Homo sapiens: one gene and its partners. The protein of the gene in region 1 purifies or fractionates together with the protein of each later gene. This does not show direct contact. Each region holds a gene or a part of one and is shown in the gene's direction. Other genes may lie near its edges.

Evidence for each region.
Region 2: the proteins of SDHB (region 1) and ACSF3 purify together in Homo sapiens (affinity purification with mass spectrometry; 2 studies listed by BioGRID and IntAct, with this or other methods). This does not show direct contact.
Region 3: the proteins of SDHB (region 1) and NCAPD3 purify together in Homo sapiens (co-immunoprecipitation; one large-scale study listed by IntAct). This does not show direct contact.
Region 4: the proteins of SDHB (region 1) and ATF2 purify together in Homo sapiens (co-immunoprecipitation; one large-scale study listed by IntAct). This does not show direct contact.
Region 5: the proteins of SDHB (region 1) and MRPL45 fractionate together in Homo sapiens (co-fractionation; 2 studies listed by BioGRID). This does not show direct contact.
Region 6: the proteins of SDHB (region 1) and NDUFS1 fractionate together in Homo sapiens (co-fractionation; 2 studies listed by BioGRID). This does not show direct contact.
Region 7: the proteins of SDHB (region 1) and SIRT3 purify together in Homo sapiens (affinity purification with mass spectrometry; one large-scale study listed by BioGRID and IntAct). This does not show direct contact.

The regions. Positions count from the first base shown.
Region 1 is NC_000001.11:17,023,033-17,026,532, reverse strand, and holds part of SDHB (succinate dehydrogenase [ubiquinone] iron-sulfur subunit, mitochondrial isoform 1 precursor), read left to right. Parts: intron 1-2,458; coding exon 2,459-2,560; intron 2,561-3,500. UniProt on the Homo sapiens protein: Iron-sulfur protein (IP) subunit of the succinate dehydrogenase complex (mitochondrial respiratory chain complex II), responsible for transferring electrons from succinate to ubiquinone (coenzyme Q).
Region 2 is NC_000016.10:89,114,352-89,117,851, forward strand, and holds part of ACSF3 (malonate--CoA ligase ACSF3, mitochondrial isoform 1 precursor), read left to right. Parts: coding exon 1-136; intron 137-2,638; exon of another isoform or gene 2,639-2,735; intron 2,736-3,500. UniProt on the Homo sapiens protein: Catalyzes the initial reaction in intramitochondrial fatty acid synthesis, by activating malonate and methylmalonate, but not acetate, into their respective CoA thioester. May have some preference toward very-long-chain substrates.
Region 3 is NC_000011.10:134,217,468-134,220,967, reverse strand, and holds part of NCAPD3 (condensin-2 complex subunit D3), read left to right. Parts: intron 1-241; coding exon 242-396; intron 397-476; exon of another isoform or gene 477-577; intron 578-3,500.
Region 4 is NC_000002.12:175,074,204-175,077,703, reverse strand, and holds part of ATF2 (cyclic AMP-dependent transcription factor ATF-2), read left to right. Parts: intron 1-2,616; exon of another isoform or gene 2,617-2,704; intron 2,705-2,836; coding exon of another isoform or gene 2,837-2,844; exon of another isoform or gene 2,845-2,868; coding exon 2,869-3,095; 3' UTR 3,096-3,500. UniProt on the Homo sapiens protein: Transcriptional activator which regulates the transcription of various genes, including those involved in anti-apoptosis, cell growth, and DNA damage response.
Region 5 is NC_000017.11:38,314,168-38,317,667, forward strand, and holds part of MRPL45 (large ribosomal subunit protein mL45), read left to right. Parts: intron 1-3,500.
Region 6 is NC_000002.12:206,114,445-206,117,944, reverse strand, and holds the end of NDUFS1 (NADH-ubiquinone oxidoreductase 75 kDa subunit, mitochondrial isoform 1 precursor), read left to right. Parts: 3' UTR 1-3,128; downstream 3,129-3,500.
Region 7 is NC_000011.10:222,843-226,342, reverse strand, and holds part of SIRT3 (NAD-dependent protein deacetylase sirtuin-3, mitochondrial), read left to right. Parts: intron 1-261; exon of another isoform or gene 262-670; intron 671-2,103; coding exon 2,104-2,265; intron 2,266-3,500.

The DNA.
Region 1 (3,500 bases):
ATTAGCTGAGTGTGGTGGCTCACACCTATAATCCCAGCTACTCAGGAGGCCAAGGCAGGAGAATCTCTTGAACCCGGGAGGTGGAGGTTTCAGTGAGCCAAGGTTGTGCCACTGTACTTCAGCCTGGGCAACAGAGCAAGACTCCGTCTCAAAGAAAAAAAGAAAAGAGAAAAAGGGGAGTCCTAGTAAGTGTGCCCAGTCTGTCACCATCAAGATAGTGAGGGTCAGCACAGTGGCCTGCAAGTCAGAGTAAGCCTGGGATGAGACTTCAGAGCTGCTCTTCTCAGACTGCAGCTCTGCTCCTCAGTTTCTACCTCCCAGAGTCTTGTGCATCCCAGAGTCCAGGCTGAACCGGGCCCTCTGGCCCAGCGAGTCCTTTGCATTCCTAGGCAAGGCTGGTGCGTAGCTAGTGAACATCTCCCTGATGTGGTATTATTAGGGATTGAAGAGTTCCCCTGAGCATGTTTGGTTTTCTAGATACAAGTTGAGTATTCCTTATCCTAAATGCTTGGGTTTCAGTGTTTGGGGTTTCATATGTTTTCAGATTTTGGAATATTTGCCTTACACTTACTAGTTGAGCACCCCAAATCCGAAATCTGAAATCCATGCTCCAGTGAACATTTCCTTTGAGCAGCATATTGGTGCTCAAAAAGTTTCAGATTTTGGAACATTTTGGATTTCAGATTTTCAGATTTGGGATGCCCAACCTGTAATAGAAATTTACTCATTTACTCATTTACATACCAAACATTTAACATTTTTTGGCTTCCTTAAATTAGTATGCTGAACTTAATAAATAATTGGAAAATGTGGAGAAATTTATGTATGTATTTATTTTTAATTGGGCAGCCCCCAAACCAAAATAGGTTCAGAGAGGCTCCATCATTTTTTAAATAAGCTATAATTTTCAGCCTGGGGAACATAGGGCGACCCTGTCTCTACAAAAACTTTAAAACTTAGCCAGGCATGGTGGTATGCACCTATAGTCCCAGCTACTCAGGAGGCTGAGATGGGAGGATTGCTTGAGCACAAGAGTTCCAGGCTGCAGTGAACTGTGATTGTGCCACTGCACTCCAGCCAGGGGCACACAGCAAGACCCTGTCTCAAAAAAAAAAAAAAAAAGAATTTATAATTCCACCACCAAAACATAATCTCTGTTAATATTTATAGTTTCCTTTGTTTTTTGTTTATTACATTATATTTTTATGTAGCTGGGATCAAAATGTAAATATGCTTTTATATCCTGCTTTTTTCACTTATGTTATTGTGAGCATTTTCTTCATATTCTTAAAATTGTTCATAAGCATTAACTTACACTTTGCTTTCTACTGCTTCAGATGTATGCACCATGCGCCATAAAACCATTTCACTGTTGCTGGACAATGAAATTGTTTCCAATTTTTTACTGTTAGAAATAAGGCTAGATGAACATCTTTATCCTTCAAGTTCTGCCCAAAACATTCTAATTTCTTATTACAGATTTTTCTAGGAGTGGGTTAAAGAATATGACTATTCTTAAGGCTCTTAATCCTGTGACCTTATGCCTTCTAGACCAGTGGGGCCAGTTGACACTCCCACCAGCTGTCTGGACATAACATAGATTTGGTTGAAGACTCATGGTTCAATCACAACCATCAGTTCTGTCTCATCTGTTCTCAACTGTCACTTCAGGTGTCAGTGGGCCCCTTTCATTTTGCTGTTTTTAATCCATTTCTGTTGTTTCCAAACTCAGAAAGTCCGGTTTGTGTTTGGGACTTGTTGGGCAGATTGACCCAGTGTGGCAGGTGTGAAAGTGCAGGAAGCCAGAGCCAGCTGCCGGGGCCACATCCTGGTTCTGCTGCCTATAGTGGCACGTCCCTGGGCACATGGCCTAACTCACTCTCCTCGCCTTGGTTCCTTACCTGTAAGTGGAACTTGCTGGAGTCACCTCACAGGATTACTGTGATGATCAGTTAAGGAAAGCGTGTAAGGCGCAGGGCCTCCGTCAGGATTGGCAGTGGCAGTCACTGGGGATGATGTTGATGTTCCCAGTGAAAACCTGAGGGCCCTTCTGCTGAGCCCAGGGCAGAAGCAGCTACAGACTCTTGCTGCTTCAGCCCCTAGGCTTTTGAATCTCTCCCGTCTTGACCTCATTCCAGGAAGCTGGAATTTATGGGAGTTGTTTTTGTGTTCTTGTTTTCTATTTCTTTTTTAGACAAGTGAGAGGTTCTTGTTTATTAAAGGGAAAGTGCACTATACGTGGATTTAAGAACCCTGGGCAGATGTTTACATTTCACTTGCAAGATCTTTATTAATCTGCTAAATATCTGCAAATCACCCCTTGGATTTTGCTAAGAAAATTCACATGCAAGTAGGCACTTTGTTCATGCACTGACCCCAAAGGTAACATTTAATCAGCTGAAGACATAGCAGAGTCTCTCCCGTCACAAGCTCCTGCCTCTCTTTTCTCCCCATACAGGACGGGCTCTACGAGTGCATTCTCTGTGCCTGCTGTAGCACCAGCTGCCCCAGCTACTGGTGGAACGGAGACAAATATCTGGGGCCTGCAGTTCTTATGCAGGTGAGGTGCTCCTTAATTGCTTTAAGAGAAATTGAAACTCAAGCATCCAGAAGTCCAAGAGGACAATAGATTGCTGTAAGCCAGCCATTCTGAGGGGCCTGGTTTCCTTCATTGCCATCCAGTCCAAACAGGGTAATTGGTTGCATTGTATTCACTTGCTTTCGGTAAATCTGGGGCCTTGTCTGCAAATTGCCTTTGTTTCAGTGCAGTGAGGGTCACCCCAAAGGGGTGCAAACCATGCCTTGCAGATGTTTAAAATGTATTTCCGTTTGCCTGGTGGTCAGAGGCTCCCCCTCTCCCTCTCATAGGATTTGTAACATAAGACTTGTAGCGAGCAAGCAGGGGAGAAAGCAGTGTCTTTGAAGGGCAGCTGCCCAGCTATGAGATTGGAAGCTGTTTCCCAGCTAATGAAAGCCTGGATTTAGGGGTTGCTTAGAAAGAAAATAGTATTGATGTTCACTGCAAAGAAAGTCACTGTCTTTGTTCCCAGAAAGCTTGTGCTTTTTTAGATACGTGCTTTTCACAGACTCTAGGCAACTCAAAAACCAACTTCTCTTTCTCATTTTCCCACAAAAAGAGAAGTTACAGGTTTGTGTGACCACATGAGCAATATTGATTCCCAGCCATGTGAAGATTGGATAATGAAGTACACTCATACTTGTCACTTTTGCCAGCTGCTCCGAGTTGGGGATGTAGAGGTCCTCTAAGTAACACTGCTAGAGCAGGCCTATGGTCATGTGATTAACTCGTTTCAGCCTGCTGATCTCAGGCTGCTGAGAGCGCTGTGTAAGTTCAAAGAATCATTAAGTGGGACAAATACTATCTGTAGACAGGTCTGTTAAATCATTCCTTTACTCAGAGACAGCAAGTCCAGCATGGGTAGGTGCCATGAAGACAGATAAGAGTTATATGATACAGTCCCTGCCTTCACCAAATTATA
Region 2 (3,500 bases), on another chromosome or scaffold:
GGCTCAGCTGCCCTGCCCCTCCCAGTGCTGGAGAAGTGGAAGAACATCACGGGCCACACCCTGCTGGAGCGGTATGGCATGACCGAGATCGGCATGGCTCTGTCCGGGCCCCTGACCACTGCCGTGCGCCTGCCAGGTACGAGCACTTCCCACAGCTGCGTTCCTCTTCCACTGTGCTCTGAGCCCCCCAAGGTGGGCCAGTCTCGAACCACCCACATTCGGACTGAAGGGCGGCATGGAGGATGCTCCCCCGTGGGACAGGCCACTCGGCCAGGAGAGCACTCAGGATGCACTGCGACCTGTCCCCTCTGGGTAGATCAGCCTTCTCCCAAGTCTCAGTCGGGTGGATGGGGGAGGTGTCTGTGCTGGCCCCTGGCTGTATGACTGGGGAGACAATGGGAAGAACAGCAATGCCTGGAATGCAGGCGTCAGTGCATGTCTCAGAGGAAGGCGGGGGGCCATGCTGTTGGCTCCAGACCACATCAGCAGTGGTGGCAGCCTCCGTCTGTCTGGAGTCCGGGTGCCACACAGCGCCAGCAGCAGTGCCAGGAGAGGTGGGTGTGGTGGGCAGGGTGGGATGAGTCAAGCACCTGTCTTCCTTCTCTAGATGTGGGCTCCTGATACCGGGCCCCTCTTGTCCAGCCTTCCCTAACACATCCCATTCTGACTTTCATCTGACCCAACCATTTGAGCCCTGGGTCCTCCGCTGGGACTTCTGGGAACAGAGCCCACAGCTGGGGGGCCACCCTGCTGCTTTCTGCGCAGCCCTTCCAGTCTGTCTAGAGTAGAAGAGAGATCTCAGTGCAGACTTAAAGTGAGACCATCCCGCACATCTGTCTGTGCAGCTGCTTACCTGCAGACCCAGTAAAAATTCACCCCTCTGGCGTGCAGCTCTGTGTGTCTTAAGAAACATCATCACAGTCAAAATAGAGAAGGGTTCCTCGCCTCAGAAACTCCCTTCCTAGTGCTCAGCACCTCCTCCACCCCCGAGGCCTGGCCCCTTGTTCCTGTTTCTCTTCTTGTGGTTTTGCTTTTTCTGGGAGGCCACGTGGCTAAATCCTGCAGGACGTGGCCTCTGAGCCTGTCTGCTTCCGCCCGGCTTCCGCCCACAGTCAACTGCCTGTGCTGTGTGCGTCAGAGCCCGCGCCTTTCCCTGCTGAGTGGCATCCGTGGTGTGGGTGCGGCACCGCTTGTGACCCTGTTTTAAGCAATGACACGTGAGATGTTATCAACATTTGTGTGCAGGTTTCTGTGCGAACGTGGTTTTTTATTTCACCTGGGCAGATACCTAGGAGAGAGATTGCTGTGTTGTCTGAAGCTTTCAAGCTGTTCTCCAGAGCGGCTACACCATCCCCTTCCCCCTGCAATGGGTGGGAGGTCACGAGCACCTGCTGCTCCAGCGGGCGGTGGTGGTGTCTCGTTGAGTTCATGATTCTCTCATGATGGGTGGCGTTGAGCACCTCTTCCTGTTCGTGTCATTCCGTTTTCAACTGGGGCCTTTGTTTTCTTGAGTTTTGAGAGCTTTTAAAATTCGGGACCCAAGTGTCAGCTGTGCGATTTTAAATATCATCTCCCAGCTTGTGGTTTGTCTTCCCATTCACCTAACAGCGTCTTTAAAATCAGGAGTTTTAGGTTTTGGCCCGGTTTATCAATTTGTTTTGTGAATTGTCTGATGTCATATCTAATAAATCCTTGCGTAGCCCAAAGTCACAGAGAATAGTTTCAGCTCTTACGTTTGGGACCATGATCCATTTTGAGTTAATGTTTGTACATAGTGCGAGATACGGACCACAGTTCTTTTTTAGTGTGTGAATGTCTAACTTTTTAGCACTGTTCGTTGAAAAGACTCCCTTCTCCATCGAACAGCCCTTTGGATCTTTGTTGAAAGTCCGTCGACTCCTGAGGGGTCGGCTCCTGGGCTCTGCTCTGTCCCATTGCTTTCCGTGTGCCCTTTGGCTCATTCCATGCCTGCTTGGTTCCTGGGACTCTAGGGTAAGCGTGGACATGGGGGTTCAGGCCCAGGCAGGGACCAGCTGGTGCCAGGCAGCGATACGGTGCTGGGGCCTGCAAGGTGAGTGTGAGGGCTGGCTGGCTGCTGGGCTGGGAGGAGGAGAGACTGTAGGCTCACGCCCCTTTGCTGGGCCTGGGGAGCCATGGGGGCTGTTAAGTGTATTCTGAGTGTAAAGTCTCGGTTTGGCTGGGGCATCCTGAGCAGAATGACAGGGCCATGGCAGCGAGATCCTCAGCTGCCGTGCAGAGCTGCCAGTGGGGTGGCCGCACAGAGTGCAGTGCCTGCTGCAACAGTGCCCAGGGCAGTGGGCGGGTGGGGGCATGTTGTGAAAAGAAGTCAGTGTGAGTGATGAGAAATACATCCTAGTCTCAGACCCCAGGAAACCGCCGTCAGTGCTGGTGGCCCCTGCCCTGGGCCGGCTCCCGCGTTAGTCTCAGACCCCAGGAAACCTCCACCTCCGTCAGTGCTAGCGGCCCCTGCTCTGGGCTGACTCGCGCATCTCCACGATGGCTGCGGCACCAGCTGTTTCTTCGGTGGCTAAAGCTCTCTGGTGGAAATAAGATGGGGACCTTGAAATCAAATGTGACTGGTCTGTTGAGTCTCTGTCCTTATCGTTGTCCTTCTTAGTAGGATGTGCTGGTTTTGTCCAGTGCCACCGGCCACAGTCACCACGTAATATGGACGGAATGAGCAAAGCCCGGCTCGCTGAGGCTGCAGGCTGCAGGCAAGTGAGGACTGAAAGGGTAACGGGCTCTGGGCTTTGTCCTCTCTTTGTTCCGGACATGTGAGCAGGACAAGTTCTGTGTATTCAGAATCTGTCTGCACAGTTTGTAGTTCATGATGACTGTTCATCCACAGCATTGCTTTGTGGGCGTCCTCTCTTTTGATCTTCTCGAAACAGCCCCTGCGATGGGGTCATATTTTGCACTCACATACAAGAACCCATGAGCCTGCCCACGGTCACGCGGCTGGTGAGTGATGCACTTCCCAGGAGCACGGTGACCTCTTCAATGGCCCTCACTAGAGAAGATGGACAGTGCCCCCCTAGCCTTTTTTACTGGAACAGATACAAGGCTGAGAAGCTGAAATCAGGAGCAGCCCAGGGACCACTGTCTACACCGAGGGAGTCATGAGCAGCCCAGGGACCACTGTCTACACCCAGGGAGTCAGGAGCAGCCCGGGGACTGCTGTCTACACCGAGGATGTCAGGAGCAGCCCAGGGACCACTGTCTACACTGAGAGCGTCAGGAGCAGCCCAGGGACCGCCGTCCACACCAAGAGCGCCAAGGAGCAGCCCAGGGACCGCCGTCCACACCGAGGGCGCCAAGGAGCAGATAGTAGCCCAGAGACCCAGGGGAGGCTCAGCTTCCCCACGCTGGAATCAGAACTCCTAGGCGAACAGGAAGGAGCCCCAGACAGATGGCACAGGGAGAGGAGTCCCCGGCTGAGGAGGGGGATCCAGAGACCCTGAAGCTTCAGGGTTATTGGG
Region 3 (3,500 bases), on another chromosome or scaffold:
TATTTCCTCCTTTATATTTTTAGAAGATGATTAGCTTAATAGTCAGTGTCAGTTGTGATTTAAGATTCTCTTAACCTTTTCTGGTTTTCTTTTATTATGCTACACCTATGTTATTAAAACAAGTTAAATGTGAATCGTGACTAGTAAACTTTTCTCCTCTTGAACACACCTGGAATCTAAAGGTGACTAGTTTTTTTACTTGTTACAGAGTACTTACACATTTCATTGCATTTTCCCCTAGAATGGGTTGACACAGTGTGGGAACTGGATTTCACAGAGACTGAGCCTTTGGATCCCAGCATAGAAGCAGAGATCATAGAGACTGGATTGGCTGCATTCACAAAACTCTATGAAAGCCTTTTACCCTTTGCTACTGGAGAACATGGATCTATGGAGGTAAAAATATAAAAACAAACTAGCCAAAGTTTGGTGTTAGAAGTAGAAGATGAAAGTCATTATTATAATCTGAAGCTTAGCTTTCTTGGTGTACAGTTCACAGGGAGTACAATATGAGTAACATAAAGAATGTGGTTAATTTATTGGAATATCCTAAGAGCTTTCCTCCAAAAGCTTCAAGGTACTTGTCTGATTTTTTTTTTTTAAGACACGACTGTTTTTTACAATAGCAAATTAAAGGAAAAGTATAAGGCCGGGTGTGGTGTCTTACGTCTGTAATCCCAGCACTTTGAGAGGCTGAGGCTGGCCAGTTGCTTGAGCTCAGGAGTTTGAGACTAGCCTGGGCAACATGGCAAAACCCCATCTCAGAAGGAAAAAAAAAAAGGAAAAATATAAAGGCAAAAACAAGAAAACTAGACCAAGGAAAATGCAAATAACAATTCAGACATGCCTTAACCTTAACTTTAAGAAAATCTGCGACCAGGCATGGTGGCTCATGCCTGTAATCCCAGTACTTTGGGAGGCCGAGGTGGGTGGATCACGAAGTCAGGAGTTCAAGACCAGCCTGACCAAGATGGTGAAACCCCATCTCTACTAAAAATACAAAAATTAGCCGGTTGTGGTGGCGGGCTTCTGTAATCCCAGCTACTCGAGAGGCTGGGGCAGATAATTGCTTGAACCCAGGAGGCGGAGGTTACAGTGAGCCGAGATCACGCCACTGCACTCCAGCCTGGGCGACAGAGCAAGACTCTGTCTCACAAAAAAAGAAAATCTGATATTATTAAACTGAGGAATGACTAGTTGAATTAACAGGTTTGTCCAAACAGTTCCTGTAAATATTGAGTTCTATCCAATGCATAGAAATATAAATTATTATTAATATTTAGGTTGTTAGTTTTCAAAAAAAACCAAAGGGTTGGGAAACAGAACAAAAGCTAATTGGATATTAACATCTCTGAAACATTTAAATGAACAAAAAAAAATTCACTTCCAAGTTTCACATCACAAAATTAAATCATCTAATTAAACATTCCTTCAGCATAACACTAAGCACTGCCTTAAGTACCTGAGTTGACAGAGTGGGGATTACGATACAATCTCCCTAGGTTGAGGTCCTCCCCAGGGACCTCAGGGAGGAAGAGTGGACATTTGAACACTAGCCAAAGTAGGTCTAGCAGCCACATGCAGTTGCAGGGGGTGGAGAGTTCAGTGCCACTGTGCATTTGGGCGCCTGGAAATATTCTACGAACCACACTGTGAAAAATGCTCCAAGAGAGGTGCGGATTTGTTGCATAGGGTGTGAAAAAGGGAGCATGGTAGGGTTGGGAAAGTTCCAGAAAGAAAGTGGCCAGCAGCGAATCTTCACAGATGACTAGCAGAAGCTTGGGTTGTAAGGCAGTCCTAGTGAAGGAGCCACCCAATGGGAACACGCAGGAAGTGTCAAGAGGCATACAGAAAAAGTGTGGTGGAACGGGATGGTAAGGTAGAGTAAGGGTAGGTCACGGGTAGCTTTACGTGAGGTTCAGCAGTGGAGTTTGAACATGTTTGGTAGAGTGTGTATGAGGTTTTGTTCTAAGCGTCCTGCATGTATTAACTCATTTAATCCTCAAGCAGCCTGTGTGAAAGAGGTTACAGTGGGCAATAGATAGGTAACATGAATAGATCTGTTTTAAGCAGACGTTCTTGACAGTAGGTGGACTGAAGTGGGAAAAATTGTGTGCAGGGAGAGCCCTTGGGAGACTGTATTGGTGATCCAGGTGTTATGAGTAATAATGGCATGATCCGGAGTTACAATTTTGGGAACTGGAAAGGAAGACTAAAAACTAGGGACATTTTTGGAATTAGAATTAATAGGGCCTTGTGAACTAGGAAGCCCTTTTGAGATATCTTAAAAACATGGTGTGAAGTGCTAAACTGACTGGGCATAGGGAATTAGAAAAAGAAAGAAGTCAGTGATCCCCAGGGTTTCAAAACTAGGAAGATGATGATATTGTTAACCAAGGTGGGGAATAAGGGAAAAAGAGCAAGGTCAAATGGAGAAACAGTTCTGTTTAGACTTCTGAACTTGAGATTCTGTCAGGAGATCCTTGGGAAGTTTAACAGGTAGTAGAAATGTGAGACCAGGAGAGAGAAGAGAGTTCTTTAAATTGAGGTATGGGTTGAAGCACAGTGATGCATGAGATCACCGAGGGTGAGAAGCAGCCAGGACAGAAATGGAGAGCTGATTGGACGGGGTCTGCAGAGGAGCAGTCACATGTAGGGAGTGCAGGGTCACTGACGCCCAGACTAGACAGCAGCCATGGGATCACATGGGGCCAAGGTGACCCCATATGCAGAGCCCTGGTGAGCAGATGGTTTAGGGTGATCGATCACCCTCGTGTGTGAAGTGGAGGTGCAGGTGGCATTAGGAATGAGGATGTGACACTGTAAAGTTAGGAGATGATTTCTTCCCCCCCCCCCCTTTTTTTTTTTTGAGACCAGGGTCTTGCTCTGTCACCCAGGCTGGAATGCAGTGGCACAGTCAAAGCTTACTGCAGCCTCAACTTATTGGGCTCACATGAGCCTCCCACCTCACCCTCCTGAGTAGCTGGGACTACAGGTGTGTGCCACCACGCCCAGCTAATTTTTTATTTTTTGTGGAGACAAGGTCTTGCTTTGTTGCCCTGGCTGTTCTCAAACTCCTGGGCTCAAGCAGTCCTCCTGCCCTGGCCTCTCAAAGTGCTGGGATTACAGGCATGAGCCATTGTGCCCAGTGGAGATGATTTCTCCCGTAAGTTTTTTAGTTAAGGAAAGGAGAGTGCTCTGCTCACTTGAATTTTGTGGGCCTTTTTTTGTTACGATACTCAAGGATAAACCATATTTAGTTCCTGCTATGTTTAGGTTATTAAAATAACCCATTTCTTCTTCATGTGTTTAGTAGGAGAAGACATGGAATGAAGATAGAATTAATACAATTGTGGTTTCTTTTCTAGGGTTTATCTCCTTTACCTGGGCCATTTCCGAGATCTCTTTCATTTCCTGCTCCCATTGCCTGCAATCTGCAGAACATTTAAATAAAGGGCTCTGATTTCCTCAGTTAGTAATTATTGGTAAAGGAATTTGAG
Region 4 (3,500 bases), on another chromosome or scaffold:
TGCTTTACCTAATTCTGAAAGTCTGTAGGTAAGCATTCATCCCTTATAATTTACTGTTTCATTTTAAGTTGTTGACTCCAGTATGTATTTACGTTTCCTTATACCACTCATCACAGATCAGCCTCTTTATTTTTAAAAGCTGGTGTGTCCCTTGAACTCAACATTCAGGGAAACGTCAGCCTGTTGTTCTTTTAAAGAATAGTGGTGAAGTTAGAATGGTGATCATTAAAAAGTCAGGAAACAACAGGTGCTGAAGAGGATGTGGAGAAATAGGAACACTTTTACACTGTTGGTGGGACTGTAAACTAGTTCAACCATTGTGGAAGTCAGTGTGGCGATTCCTCAGAGATCTTGAACTAGAAATACGATTTGACCCAGCCATCCCATTACTGGGTATATACCCAAAGGATTATAAATCATGCTGCTATAAAGGCACATGCAAATGTATGTTTATTGCAGCACTATTCACAATAGCAAACACTTGGAACCAACCCAAATGTCCAACAATGATAGACTGGATTAAGAAAATGTGGCACATATACATCATGGAATACTATGCAGCCATAAAAAATGATGAGTTCATGTCCTTTGTAGGGACATGGATGAAGCTGGAAACCATCATTCTCAGCAAACTATTGCAAGGACAAAAAACCAAACACTGCATGTTCTCACTCATAGGTAGGAATTGAACAATAAGAACACATGGACATAGGAAGGGGAACATCACACACCGGGGCCTGTTGTGGGGTGGGGGGAGGGGGGAGGGATAGCATTGGGAGATATACCTAATGTTGGATGACGAGTTAATGGGTGCAGCACACCAACATGGCATATGTATACGTATGTAACTAACCTGCACGTTGTGCACATGTACCCTAAAACTTAAAGTATAATTTTTAAAAAGTGATAAAAATAAAAAAATTTTAAAAATCACATATAAATACTTAAAAAAAAAAAAGAATAGTGGTGAAACAAAACAAATAGAGCTTTTTAGTATTCCCTCCAGTTAAACTGTCATTGCCAGTATTTTGTTTTCTATATACATGTAATGATTATGTAATGATTATATTGGCTATTTTAATAACTGAATTATAAATATTTTATAACATTCATTACTGCTTGATCAGAAAAGTAGGGGGGTGAAGGAGAGGGGCACTAGTTGAGAAACGACCTGTTGGGTGCTATGTTCACTATTTTGGTGATAGGTTCAATAGAAGCCCAAACCCCAGGATTGCACAATATACCCATGTAACATACCTGCATATGTACCATCTGAATCTATAATTTTTTTTAAGTATTCATTCTGTTTTATATAATTTTTAAAGGATTACTACTTCTGGTGGTTGGTGGTGGTGGTGGTGTTGTTTTATTGTACCTTGAGGTCAAGTATCTAGGGGTATGGTTTTGATTTATAGCATGTTATAGAGAAGATGGGGTTCCATCTCATTAATGTATTTTAAAACCTGCTTTTCAAAAATGCATGGATTTGAGGCAGATGTTGAAAAATTCTGTAAAAACTATATTTCAGAAAATGCACAAAATTAATAATTTTATTTTAGCTAAAGTTGACACTACCAGGTATCCCCCTCTCCATCTTCTACATTGCAAATCATAGGCTAAGTCCTGCTTCATAAGATGTCCACAATTTTTTTCACTAATTGACTTTCAGAATGGGCATCTGGCCATTAGTAAGCAGGCCAATACACATTCTTAGATTTGATTTTAGAAGCCTATTTACTGTCACTCCTAAACACTGAATAAAAAAAGTTTTAATGCCAAGTGAAAAAAGCAAGGTGCAAAAGAATACATCCAGTGTGATACTGTTTTTAAAATGTTTCAAAATAAACAAAGCTGAACTATATTGTTTAGGGATACATGCCTATGTGGTAAAACTGCAGAGAAAAAACGAGAATGGTTAAAGAAATGTCAGAGTGGTGATTACCTTTGGTGAGGACAGGAACCTCCAGGAAGCAGAAGTGTTAATGGCAATGTTCTCTCTTAAGTTGGCGGCTCGGTTCCCAGGTGTTCATGTTATCATTGTTCCTCATAACTTACATATACTATAAATATTTGTGTGTTATCTATATCAAATTTTTACTAAATGAAATTACTGGATTCTGTTCTATTAAAATAAGGATGTAAGAGACTTGTTCAGGTCTAAATATTTGCAGATTTATTTTCGTAAATATTTAGAATGCCCTTTCCTTAATATCTTTTCAGATGCAATGTTTAGAGTTTTATATGGATTTTTACTTGAATCCCAATTTATTCATGCAACTATAACAGCTGGTGGCATTTAGATTCTAAATACTGCTTGTTCTCCTATGTATGCATCATTAGAATCAGGTGTTATAATCATCCATGGCTGCAATAGATGGAAAATCAGTCAGAATAAATACAGTTCTGGAGAATGCAGAGGGAATAATTTGAAGATATAATTTGTATGTAAGAATTCATTTTGTTTATGCATGTGGTTATACATTTTTATCTTGTAATAAGAATGACATGTAGGCCAACCAGACTGAGTTTGTTAAATGTGATACTTAATGTTTGATTGTATCTGTAAGAGACTATCTTCCAAACTCTCCCTCATTTTCTTTCTTTAACACTATTTAGCAAATATTTCTTCAGCTCTATTCCATAAGGCAGTGGGCACCCAGATGTTTCCATATGCATGGTTGTGCCTTCTTTTGACCTATTGCAGGTAAAATTGCCTACTTCATGACCTATATCAATTGCTGTAATACCAACTTGTCTAATCAGTTTTGTAAGATACTTTCTAACTTTTTACTCTGTGTATTGCCTCAGCATACTGGTGCATTCTTACCGATTTTAGGAAAATGAATAATTTTTCTTTTTTCCACCCAGCTGCTGATAAAGATGATAGTTCAGAAGACATTTCAGTGCCGAGTAGTCCACATACAGAAGCTATACAGCATAGTTCGGTCAGCACATCCAATGGAGTCAGTTCAACCTCCAAGGCAGAAGCTGTAGCCACTTCAGTCCTCACCCAGATGGCGGACCAGAGTACAGAGCCTGCTCTTTCACAGATCGTTATGGCTCCTTCCTCCCAGTCACAGCCCTCAGGAAGTTGATTAAAAACCTGCAGTACAACAGTTTTAGATACTCATTAGTGACTTCAAAGGGAAATCAAGGAAAGACCAGTTTCCATTTATGCGAAATCTGTGGTTGTAAATTTTTTTTTTTTACTTGAAATTAAATTTGGCTCTAAAGTTGGTGTAGCAGCAGTTGATCAGACTGAAAAACGGTTTTTAGTCTCTGGAAAAAGACTGATTTTGCTTTTTTTATAAATATTATTAGATTTATTAATTTTTCTGTGCTCAATGTGTAAATTGTATTATAATTCATTGTGATTTATTTCACTTTTAATTTGCTGGTGTTTTAATAAATGGGGGTGTTACTGAATCTTTCTTCCCACTTCCATTTCTTTTGACCACCCCTTAACCCTCAACTGTGACGGTAGTAGTATTATCATTTAT
Region 5 (3,500 bases), on another chromosome or scaffold:
GATCTCGGCTCACCGCAACCTCTGCCTCCTGGGTTCAAGCAATTCTCCTGCCTCAGCCTCCTGAGTAGCTCAGATTACAGGCATGCGCCACCATGCCTGGCTAATTTTGTATTTTTAGTAGAGACAGGGTTTCACCATGTTGGACAGGCTGGTCTTGAATTCCCGACCTCGGGTGATCCACCTGCCTCGGCCTCCCAAAGTGCTGGGATTACAGGCGTGAGCCACTGCGCCTGCCGTCTTTTCACTCTTGATAGTATCCTTTGATGCAAAAAAGTTTTAAATTTTGATGAAATCCAGTTTTTCAAGTTTTTTTCTTTTGTTACCATATCGAGTTTTTTCTTTTGGTGTCATATTCAAGAAATCATTGCCAAATCCAGTGTCATGAAGTATTTCCCCTTCCTTTTTCTCTAAGATTTTTATAGTTTTAGCTCTCACATTTAGGTCTTTGCTCCATTTTGAGTTAGTTTTTGTATATAGTGAAAACTATGTGATGTTTTTGCTTTTTTTTGCATGAGAATATTCATTTTTCTAGCACCATTTATTGAAGAGACTGTGCTTTCCCATTAAGTGGCCAGGCCGGTCTCAAACTCCTGACCTCAGATGATCCACCCGCCTTGACCTCCCAAAGCGTTGGGATTACAGGCATGGGCCACCGCCTGTCCTCAACAGTGGTTTTTGCAGAAATAGAGAAACACAGCCAGGCGTGGTGGCTAGTTCAACCTAGTTTGAATAATATCAACTTAGTTTCAATAATATACAAACGCTCTGCTCCTATATGTCTCTCCCTCCCACTTCATTATGTCTCTCCTGCTTCATTATCACAGATTACAGTTTTATACCTTGGGTGCCCATTACATCAATTCATAATTATTGTTTTATGCATTTGCCTTTTAAATCATACAGGATGAAAAATGAGGAATTATAAACCAAAAGTACAGTAATACAGGCTTTTATATTTATCTATGTAGTTACTTTTCCTACATAGTAGTAAAACATACATGTTTTTTGTTTTTTTCTTGTGGTTTTGAGTTACTTTCTGGTGTCCTTTCATTTTAGCCTGAAGGATCCCCTTTAGCCTTTGTTTGTTTCTTTTTTATTTTAAAGTCAGGGTCTCACTTTTTCAGCCAGGCTGGAGTGAGCACAGTGGTGCAATGATAGCTGCACTGCAGCCTCAACCTGCTGGGCTCAAGCGATCTTCCCACCTCAGCCCCTGAGTAGCTGGGACTACAGGTGTGTGCCACAGCACCTGGCTAATTTTTTTTTTTTTTTTCTAATTTTTTTGTAGAGACAGGGGTCTCGCTTTGTTGCCCAGGCTGGTCTCGAACTCCTGGCCTCAAGTGATCCTCTTGCCTCTGCCTCCCAATGTGTTGGGATTATAGGCATGAGCTGCTGTGCCCAGCCTATTGCCACTTTCAAGATTCATTCTTTGTGTTTGGGTTTTGACACTTTGGTTTTAATGTTTCTTGGTATGAATTTCTTTCAGTTTATCTTGCTAGGAGGTTTTTGAGCTTCCTGGATGTACATATGAATGTCTTTCATCAGATTTGGGATGTCTGCAGCCATTATTTCTTTTTCTTTCTTTTTTTTTTTTTGCATGTTATTTTTATTTTATTTTATTTTTTGAGATGGAGCTTTACTCTTGTTTCCCAGGCTGGAGTGCAGTGGCCCGATCTCGGCTCATTGCAGCCTCCGCCTCCCAGGTTCAAGTGATTCTCCTGCCTCAGTCTCCCAAGTAGCTGGGATTACAGGCACTTGCCACCCACACCTGGCTAATTTTTGTATTTTTTAGTAAAGATAGGGTTTCACCCTGTTGACCAGGCTGGTCTCGAACTCCTGACCTCAGGTGATCCACCCACCTTGGCCTCCCAAAGTGCTGGGATTACAGGTATGAGCCATTGTGCCTGGCCGCATTATTTCTTCAAATTTTTTTTCTATCCATTTCTTTCTTCTTTTTCTGGGACTCCTATGATGTGTATTTGGTATACTTGATGATGTCCCACAGGTCCCTCAAGGTTTTGTTCATTTTTTTTCCATTATTTTTTCTCTTTGCATTTTAGACTATGTAATTTTAATTACCTTATCCTCAAGTTCACTGATACTTTGCCTGCTCAAACCTGCTGTTGAACCCCTCTAGTGAATTTTAAAATTTATTGTACTTTTTAGCTCCAGAATTTCTGTTTGGTTCCCTTGTATAATTTCTGTCTCCAATGTGTTCACACATTGTTTTTCTGATTTCATTACTTCTTTGTCCATGGTTTCCTTTAGCTCATTGGACATATTTAGGACAATTGATTTGTGTCTTTACTAATAATTACAATGTCTGGGTTTCCTTAGGGGTGGTTTCTGTCAAATTATTTTTTGGTCAGGTGTGGTGGCTCATGCCTATAATCCAGTACTTTGGGAGGCCGAGGCGGGCAGATCACTTGAGTCCAGGAGTTCGAGACCAGCCTGGCCAACATGGTGAAACCCCAACTCTACTAAAAATACAAAAAAAGCTGGGTGTGGTGGCGTGCACCTGTAGTCCCAGAATCTCACTCTGTAGCCCAGGCTGGAGGGCAGTGGTGCAATCCAAAAAAAAAAAAAAAAAAAAAAAAAAAGCAAAAGTGTATTTGTCTGTTTTACATTTTATCCAACATTTCCTTTTTTTTTGAGACGGAGTCTTGCTCTGTTGCCAGGCTGGAGTGCAGTGGCGCGATCTTGGCTCACTGCAACCTCCACCTCCCAGGTTCAAGCGATTCTCCTGCCTCAGCCTCCTGAATAGCTGAGACTCCAGGTGTGTGCCACTGTACCTGGCTAATTTTTGTATTTTTAGTAGGGACAGGGTTTCACCATGTTGGCCAGGATGGTCTTGATCTCCTGACCTCGTGATCTGCCCACCTTGGCCTCCCAAAGTGCTGGGATTACAGGCATGAGCCACCGCACCCGGCCCATAAATCCACCATTTCTAAATGTTTATAGTAGAAGTAGTATTACATTATTGCAAAATAGTAAGTGAACTCATGGAAAATGGAGTTTATTTCCACTGAAGACTTCTATGCCAGGATAGTGGGGAGGAAGAGTTCACTCAGAGGTGCCAGTGATGGTCATCATGGTAGTTGTCACCACAGCTCAGTCTGTTCCTACAGTAGAGGAAATGACTTGGAATCTTTCCTATTAGGAATAGAGATGAAAGGGAAGCAGATAGACATGTTAGAACTAATCCCTTACCCATTCTGGGCTTAGAGAGCAAGATTTTTCAAAGGGGACAAAGAGTTAAACTGCTCATAGTAAACTGGGGAAAAGTCGTGTGTATCTGAAAGAAGCTAATCTATGGCCTTAGGTTTGAGACTCATCAGCTAGGAACCCTCCTAAAATCTTGTATCTATAGGAGCTAGGGTTTGTTGTCTGTTTTGTGTTTTTTTTGTTTTGTTTTGTTTTTTTTTGAGACGGAATCTCGCTCTGTCACTCAGGCTAGAGTGCAGTGGCGTGATCTCAGCTCACCGCAACCTCCGCCTCCCGGG
Region 6 (3,500 bases), on another chromosome or scaffold:
CTAAAGAGATACTGAGATGAATAACTTATTAATTTCCTTCTTAAAATCATAATTTTGGATCTGTAAAGGACTATACAAAAAAAAATTTTAGTATTATACCTGCATTTTATAATTGTGGAAATGGAGGCCAGAAAGAATAAGAGGCAAGTTAGGGGCAGATCTTGGGTTTGGATCAGCTCTTCTGATGCCTGGTTCTGTGACATTACAAAGCCTGAAATTCAGCTCCAACATCTATTAAACATTTGCAGAGTATCAGCTGGGTGCGGTGGCTCTCATAAGGCCAGGAGTTCAAGACCAGCCTGGCCAAGATAGTGAAACCCCATCTCTACTAAAAATACAAAAATTAGCCGGGCATGGTGGCAAGACACCTGTAATCCCAGCTACTCTGGAGGCTGAGTCAGAGAATTGCTTAAACCTGGGAGGCGGAGGTTGCAGTGATCCCAGATCGCGCCACTGCGCTCTAGCATGGGCGACAAAGCGAGACCCCATCTCAAAAAGAAAAACAAAATTTTTTTGCAGAGTATCTACTGTGTGTCAAGTACATTACCCAAGACTACAAAGAGAAATACAATTTAGCTAATGTCCTCAAGAAGCTAACAGTATACTAAAAGAGATATGTAGGCATCAATTATAGTAATGACATAACATATTCTAATAGAGGTAAGTACATAACACAGTGGGCATGTCTAGTTGTCTTTGTTTCTGCTGTTAAAACAGAATATCACAGACTGGGTGATGGGTTGATTGATTGACTGATTGAGGCAACTCTGTCACCCAGGCTGGGGTTCAGTGGCATGATCACAGTTCACTGCAGCCTCAACCTCCCTGGATCAAGCAATCCTCCTGCCTCAGCCTCCTGAACAGCTGGAACTACAGGTGTGAGCCACCATGCCCCACTAATTTTTATTTATTTATTTTTTTTTTCTGAGACGGAGTCTCAGTTTGTCGCCCAGGCTGAAGTGCAGTGGCACAATCTCAGCTCACTGCAACCTCCACCTCCCGGGTTCAGTTTTCCTGCCTCAATCTACTAGGATCTAGCTAGGATTACAGGTGTGCGCCACCATGCCCAGCTAATTTTTGTATTTTTAGTAGAGACGGGGTTTCACCATGTTGGTCAGGCTGGTCTCAAACTCCTGACCTCATGATCTGCCCACCTCGGCCTCCCAAAGTGCTGGGATTACAGGCGTAAGCCACCGCGCCCAGCTAATTTTTAAAAATATTTTATAGAGACAGGTCTCACTATGTTGCCCAGGCTCGTCTTGAACCCCTGGGCCCAGGCGCTCCTCCCACCTTGACCTCCCAAAGTTCTGGAATTACACATGTGAGCCAACACACCAGGCCCAGACTGGGTAATTTATAAAGAAATTTACTTCTGCCCACACCGCCCCGCCTCCCCGCGCGAGTGGCTGAGGCGTAGCGCTGCCATCCCCGCACCCCTGGGAACATGGCGCTGCGAGTGGTGCGGAGCGTGCGGGCCGTGCTCTGCAGCCTGCACGTGGTCCTGGCACCTGCCGCGCCCTGCCTATCGAGGCCCTGGCAGCTTGGGATGGGCGCCGTCTGGTTACTGTAATCTGCCTGAAGTTGGGACAAAATTGAACAAACAAGATGAGTTTGGTGCTTTGGAGAGTGTGAAAGCTGCTAGTGAACTCTATTCTCCTTTATCAGGAGAAGTAACCGAAATTAATGAAGCTCTTGCAGAAAATCCAGGACTTGTAAACAAATCTCGTTATGAAGATGGTTGGCTGATCAAGATGACACTGAGTAACCCTTCATAACTAGATGAACTTATGAGTGAAGAAGCATATGAGAAATACATAAAATCTATTGAGGAGTGAAAATGGAACCACTAAATAAGCTAGTATGAAATAACGCAACCCAGCAGAGTTGTCCTAAATTAGTGGTGGATAGAAGACTTAGAATAGCAACTTTTAGCATTACCCATGGGAAAAAAAAACTACTGTTAACACTGCTAATGAAAGAAGATGCCTTTTAACTTTCTAATGATTGTAGATAAACATAATATGTGTCTTTTTCACAACATCCTATGATTTTTAGACTAGGCTCTAGTATTCATGAAATTATCCATGAAATTATCCATGGTAAAAATTAGTTACAAAAATTACATAATTCAAAGATAATGTTGTTATTCTTAAGCCTTATATAATATTGTAACTTGTGTATGTCCATACCTGGACTTGGGATGAAATACTTAATGATCTTTCCATTGGAAATAACTGGGAGTGAAGAAGTTTTTGTTGCTTGTACAGTGTCAGATGAAGAACAACACTATCTTAATTTTGCAATACACTGCATTTGCTGGTGCTGTTTTTATATAGTGAAGCAACAGCTGTACAGCAAAATAATAAAATACTCACTTCTTCGTTAAAAAAAAAAAAAATTTACTTCTTACAATTCTGGAGGCCAGGAAGACCATGATCAGGTGCCAGCATCTGGGAAGGGCCTTCTTGCTGTCCTCCCATGGCAGAAGATGGAAGGGCAAGGGAGAGCTAACATGCTCCCGCAAACCCTTTTTATAATGGCATCAATCAAATATGAGGCCAGAGTCCTTGTGACCTAATCATCTCCCAGAAGGCTCCGCCTCCCAACCCTGTTGCATTGGGATTAAGTTTCCAACACATGAATTGTGGAGACAACACATTCAAAACATAGCATTCCACACCTTGGGCTCCCCAGATTCATGTCCTCACATGCAAAATAAATTCATTCCATCCCAATAGCCCCTAAAAAGTCTTAACTTGTTCCAGCATCAACTTTAAAGTCAAAGTCCAAAGTCTCATCTAAATCAGATATGAGTGAGACTCAAGGCATGATTCATCATGAGACAAAGGATGTACATTTGCAATGTTTGTCATGTCAGACAAAACAAAAATATGTAAATATCCATCAATAGGGAACTGCTGAAAAATTTTTTTGTATAATCATAAAATGAAACATGCAGATGTTTAAACCAATGAGCTAGATCTCAACGTGCTGATATGGAAAGTGCTTCAGAATGTATTAAGGACATAAATTAAGTGTACAATAATGTGTGTGTGTGTATATATGTATATGCTTACGTGTGTATGGAAAGTATCTCAGCAGATACAATAAAAACTTAATTGTGATTACCCCTGGATCAATTAACATGTGGTATAGTATAAGGAAATGAATTTTATACCTTGATCAAACATTTGAAAAATTTTACAATATACTGCTTTATAATTTTTAGAAACAACATATTGTGGCCAAGTGCGGTAGCTCACGCCTGTAATCCCAAAGGCCAAGGCGGGCAGATCACCTGAGGTCAAGAGTTTGGGACCAGCCTGACCAACATGGAGAAACCCCATCTCTACTAAAAATACAAAATTAGCCAGATGTGGTGGTGCATGCCTGTAATCCCAGCTACTTAGGAGACTGAGGCAGGAGAAACGCTTGAACCTGGGAGGTGGAGGTTGCGGTGAGCTGAGATCACACCATTGCACTCCAGCCTGGGCAACAAG
Region 7 (3,500 bases), on another chromosome or scaffold:
ACCTTGGAAGCTTGAGTTCCTGGCCGTAGCAGGAGAGGAGGTCAGACGCGCCTCACTGTACCCCTCCCTCCCCAGCCACCATTAGGCTTCTTCACTAAGGGCTAAACAGAAACCAGCCCTTTTCAAAGACTCTACACTGCTAATGTGGATTACTGGTTTATCTTCCCAGATACAGATTAAAGACAAGATGAGATTAATGGTTCCTTCACCCTTCCCTGAGAGGTCTGCTTAGTTCTCTTCCTCTGTTTCCTTCTATCTTAGGTAAAATGTACATTTACTGGGCACTTACTGAAGTCTCACAAGTACGTAACCACTCACCTCACAGCCACCCTCCCTCTTTGAAGGACCACATGTAATTACTAAACCTCCTGAGAACCTCTTGGGACAGAAACAAGCACAGATGTGCCGTGACTCATGTTTTTCCTGTGGGCACCCTCAGGCTGGCTCAGTAGCCCTCACTTGCTTGAGATCCTGAATCTGCGGGTTGGCGTCTTTCATGGTTGCTGGATCATACTCTGCCGTTATCTCTTCGGATATGAGTTGCCCCTAGCCCACTATCTGGCCCCTCTCTTTAGGGACCTCTGATTGAACATACATTAGACCTTCTCTCTCCTGCTGTTCCTGATCACTCTTCTGTCCTGTAATTGCTGCTTCTTGTGCTGCATTCTGGGTAATTTCTTCTGGTCTTTTTTCCAGTTTACTAATATTGTATTCTGTTATAAGGTCCTTCCATTGAGTGTTTCTTTCTTTCTTTTTTCCCAAACAGCAACTCAAAACAGACATTGAGTTTTAATTTTGGTTCCTGTACTTTTTATTTCTAGAAGTTCTATTTGGTTATTTTTCAAGTCTGCTACATTATTACATAATTTTTTAATAATTTTATATCTTTAATAGATAGTTTTTTGTTTTGTTTTGTTTTGTTTTGTTTTTTGAGACAGAGTCTCGCTTTGTTGCCCAGGCTGGAGTGCAGTGGTGCAATCTCAGCTCACAGCAACCTCCGCCTCCCAGGTTCAAGTGATTCCCCTGCCTCAGCCTCCCAAGTAGCTGGGATTACAGGCACGCATCACCACGCCTGGCTAATTTTTTGTGTTTTAGTAGAGACAGGGTTTCACCATGTTGGCCAAGACAGTCTCGATCTCCTGACCTCGTGATCTGCCCACCTCGGCCTCCCGAAGTCCTGGGATTACAGAGCTGAGCCACTGCGCCTGGCCTTTGATAGATATTTCAAGTTCATCTTTTTTTTTTGCTTCCTTAATTTTTTTTTTTGCTATACCCCATGCCTCCAAGATAACAGTTTTTTCTTTTTAATTTAAATATAATACAGTTTTACTGTGTATCCAAGAATATCTGAAATCTTTCGTGGGTCTCTTTCTTTTGTCTTTTGTATCTGTTGCTTTTTGCTGGGCTGAGCCTGCTTAAAACAAGCCCCGTTAGCTGTAAAGGTTTACCTTAGAAAGTCAGGTGTCTTCCTCTGTAACTCTCTCCCTTTTCCATCTGCTCCAAGGCATTTATTTATATTAATCTTGACGCAAAGGGAAGTTGTGTCCACTTCACCTTGGCCAGTAAGGAAGCAGTGTTTGGCAGATGTTGTTACTCCTAATAATGCCAGCCAGTGAGTGAAGCTGACCTGAATGCCTCCCAGGGCTGAGGCAATGGCATGATCACCGAAGCTCAAACCAGAGACAGTTTCACCTTTCTGACTGAATAGTGTTCGGTGTAGGCCAAATGCCTGCAGACTACTGTTTGAGGACTGGTGTGGTCTACCAGGTGTTTCCTTAGCGCCTGGATGTCTCTGGCTGCCATCCCAGGGATAGAGCATGGTGTTAGATACGCTAGATGCCTGCCGAAGTAATTATGGGTGAAACATATGATGTCCAAGATTTGCTTTTAAAGGCTCCAATACCTCCTCCCAGATTCCGGAGGGCTGTGAAACAATTAGCTATGAAAACTGGTAATTCCTGAAGCTGGGTACATGGGGGTTCATGATCCCTCTCTCACCTTTTTTGGGGGAGAATGTTTGAGACTTTAATAAGAACTTGTTGCCTTTTCCTTTTACAGGGTGTTGCAGGCATCTTCCTCAGGCCTGTTTTCTCTGTTTTCCAGGCTGACGTGATGGCAGACAGGGTTCCCCGCTGCCCGGTCTGCACCGGCGTTGTGAAGCCCGACATTGTGTTCTTTGGGGAGCCGCTGCCCCAGAGGTTCTTGCTGCATGTGGTTGATTTCCCCATGGCAGATCTGCTGCTCATCCTTGGGACCTCCCTGGAGGTTTGTCAGCAGGCCTGTGCAGGGAGGAGGCTGGAGGGCAGGGGAAGGGAGGGGTACAGGAGTCATCTCATGGGCTGTCGGCAGGCCTGTGCAGGGAGGAGTCTGGAGGGCAGGGGAAGGGAGGGGTACAGGAGTCACCTCATGGGCTGTCGGCAGGCCTGTGCAGGGAGGAGGCTGGAGGGCAGGGGAAGGGAGGGGTACAGGAGTCATCTCATGGGCTGTCGGCAGGCCTGTGCAGGGAGGAGGCTGGAGGGCAGGGGAAGGGAGGGGTACAGGAGTCATCTCATGGGCCCTTCCAGGGCTGGTGCCACTTTGGGAAGGTGAATGGATTCAGCTGGGGTTCCAGGCTGAGGGAGCAGCAGCCTGTGCAGGAGACAGGAAGGTGGGAAGCTGCTGGGCTTTGGAGGTGGTATAGGTGTGGGTGGGGCACCACGTGTGAGGAGAAGGGAGAAGGATGGGGGTGTGGGGGCGAGGTGGAGGGGCAGGGCCTCCCAGGTCAGATCAGGAATACTGATGCTGCAGTGGGAGGAGTGATAAATCCACAGGGACTGGCCCGGGGACGTAGCTGCACCCTTGGGGTCAGGGAGGCCTTTGGGGAGTGGAGAGTGGAGCAAGCAGTGCCAGGAGGCTGGTCCTGGAGAAGGTGGAGCTGTGGTCGCCTGAGGGATGGCGAGGAGGGGGACTGGACTCGCAGTCTGTGATGTTTTGGGGACGTGAGAAGGAGGCGTCTGGCTTGGTCTGTAAGGTCAGGGCACTTGCTGGTGAGGCGTGATTTGGGAGGGAGGATGCCCAGCTCGGTTCTGTGTGTGTCTGAGGTGTCGGGAAACATGCCCTGGATGTGTTCAAGCAGCTGTTCTGCGTCTGCGTCTGCAGCTCAGGAAATTCCTAAAAGCTGTGATGAGAGCAAGAAATGAGACCATGAAGTCAGTGTGTGCGTGACTGGATGTAGGCACCGAGGACAGAAGGGCCAGAAAGACCTGTGCTCAGAGGGGCCCAGGGCAGCCACAGGGGCCCAGAGCATGTGTTTGTTCAGGCATTCATTGTGTGCTGGGCCCTGCTCCAGTGCTTTGGACATACACGGTCAGATGTCAGTGTAAGAAGTTATATAGTTTGTTAGGAGATGATTGATGTTATGAGAAAGATAACAAGTAGGATAGAAAGGCTAGAAGGGTTGGGAACCAGCTGCAGTGTCAAGTCAGGCAGGTGGAGTTGGATCTAAGAGTTTACCGAGGTGA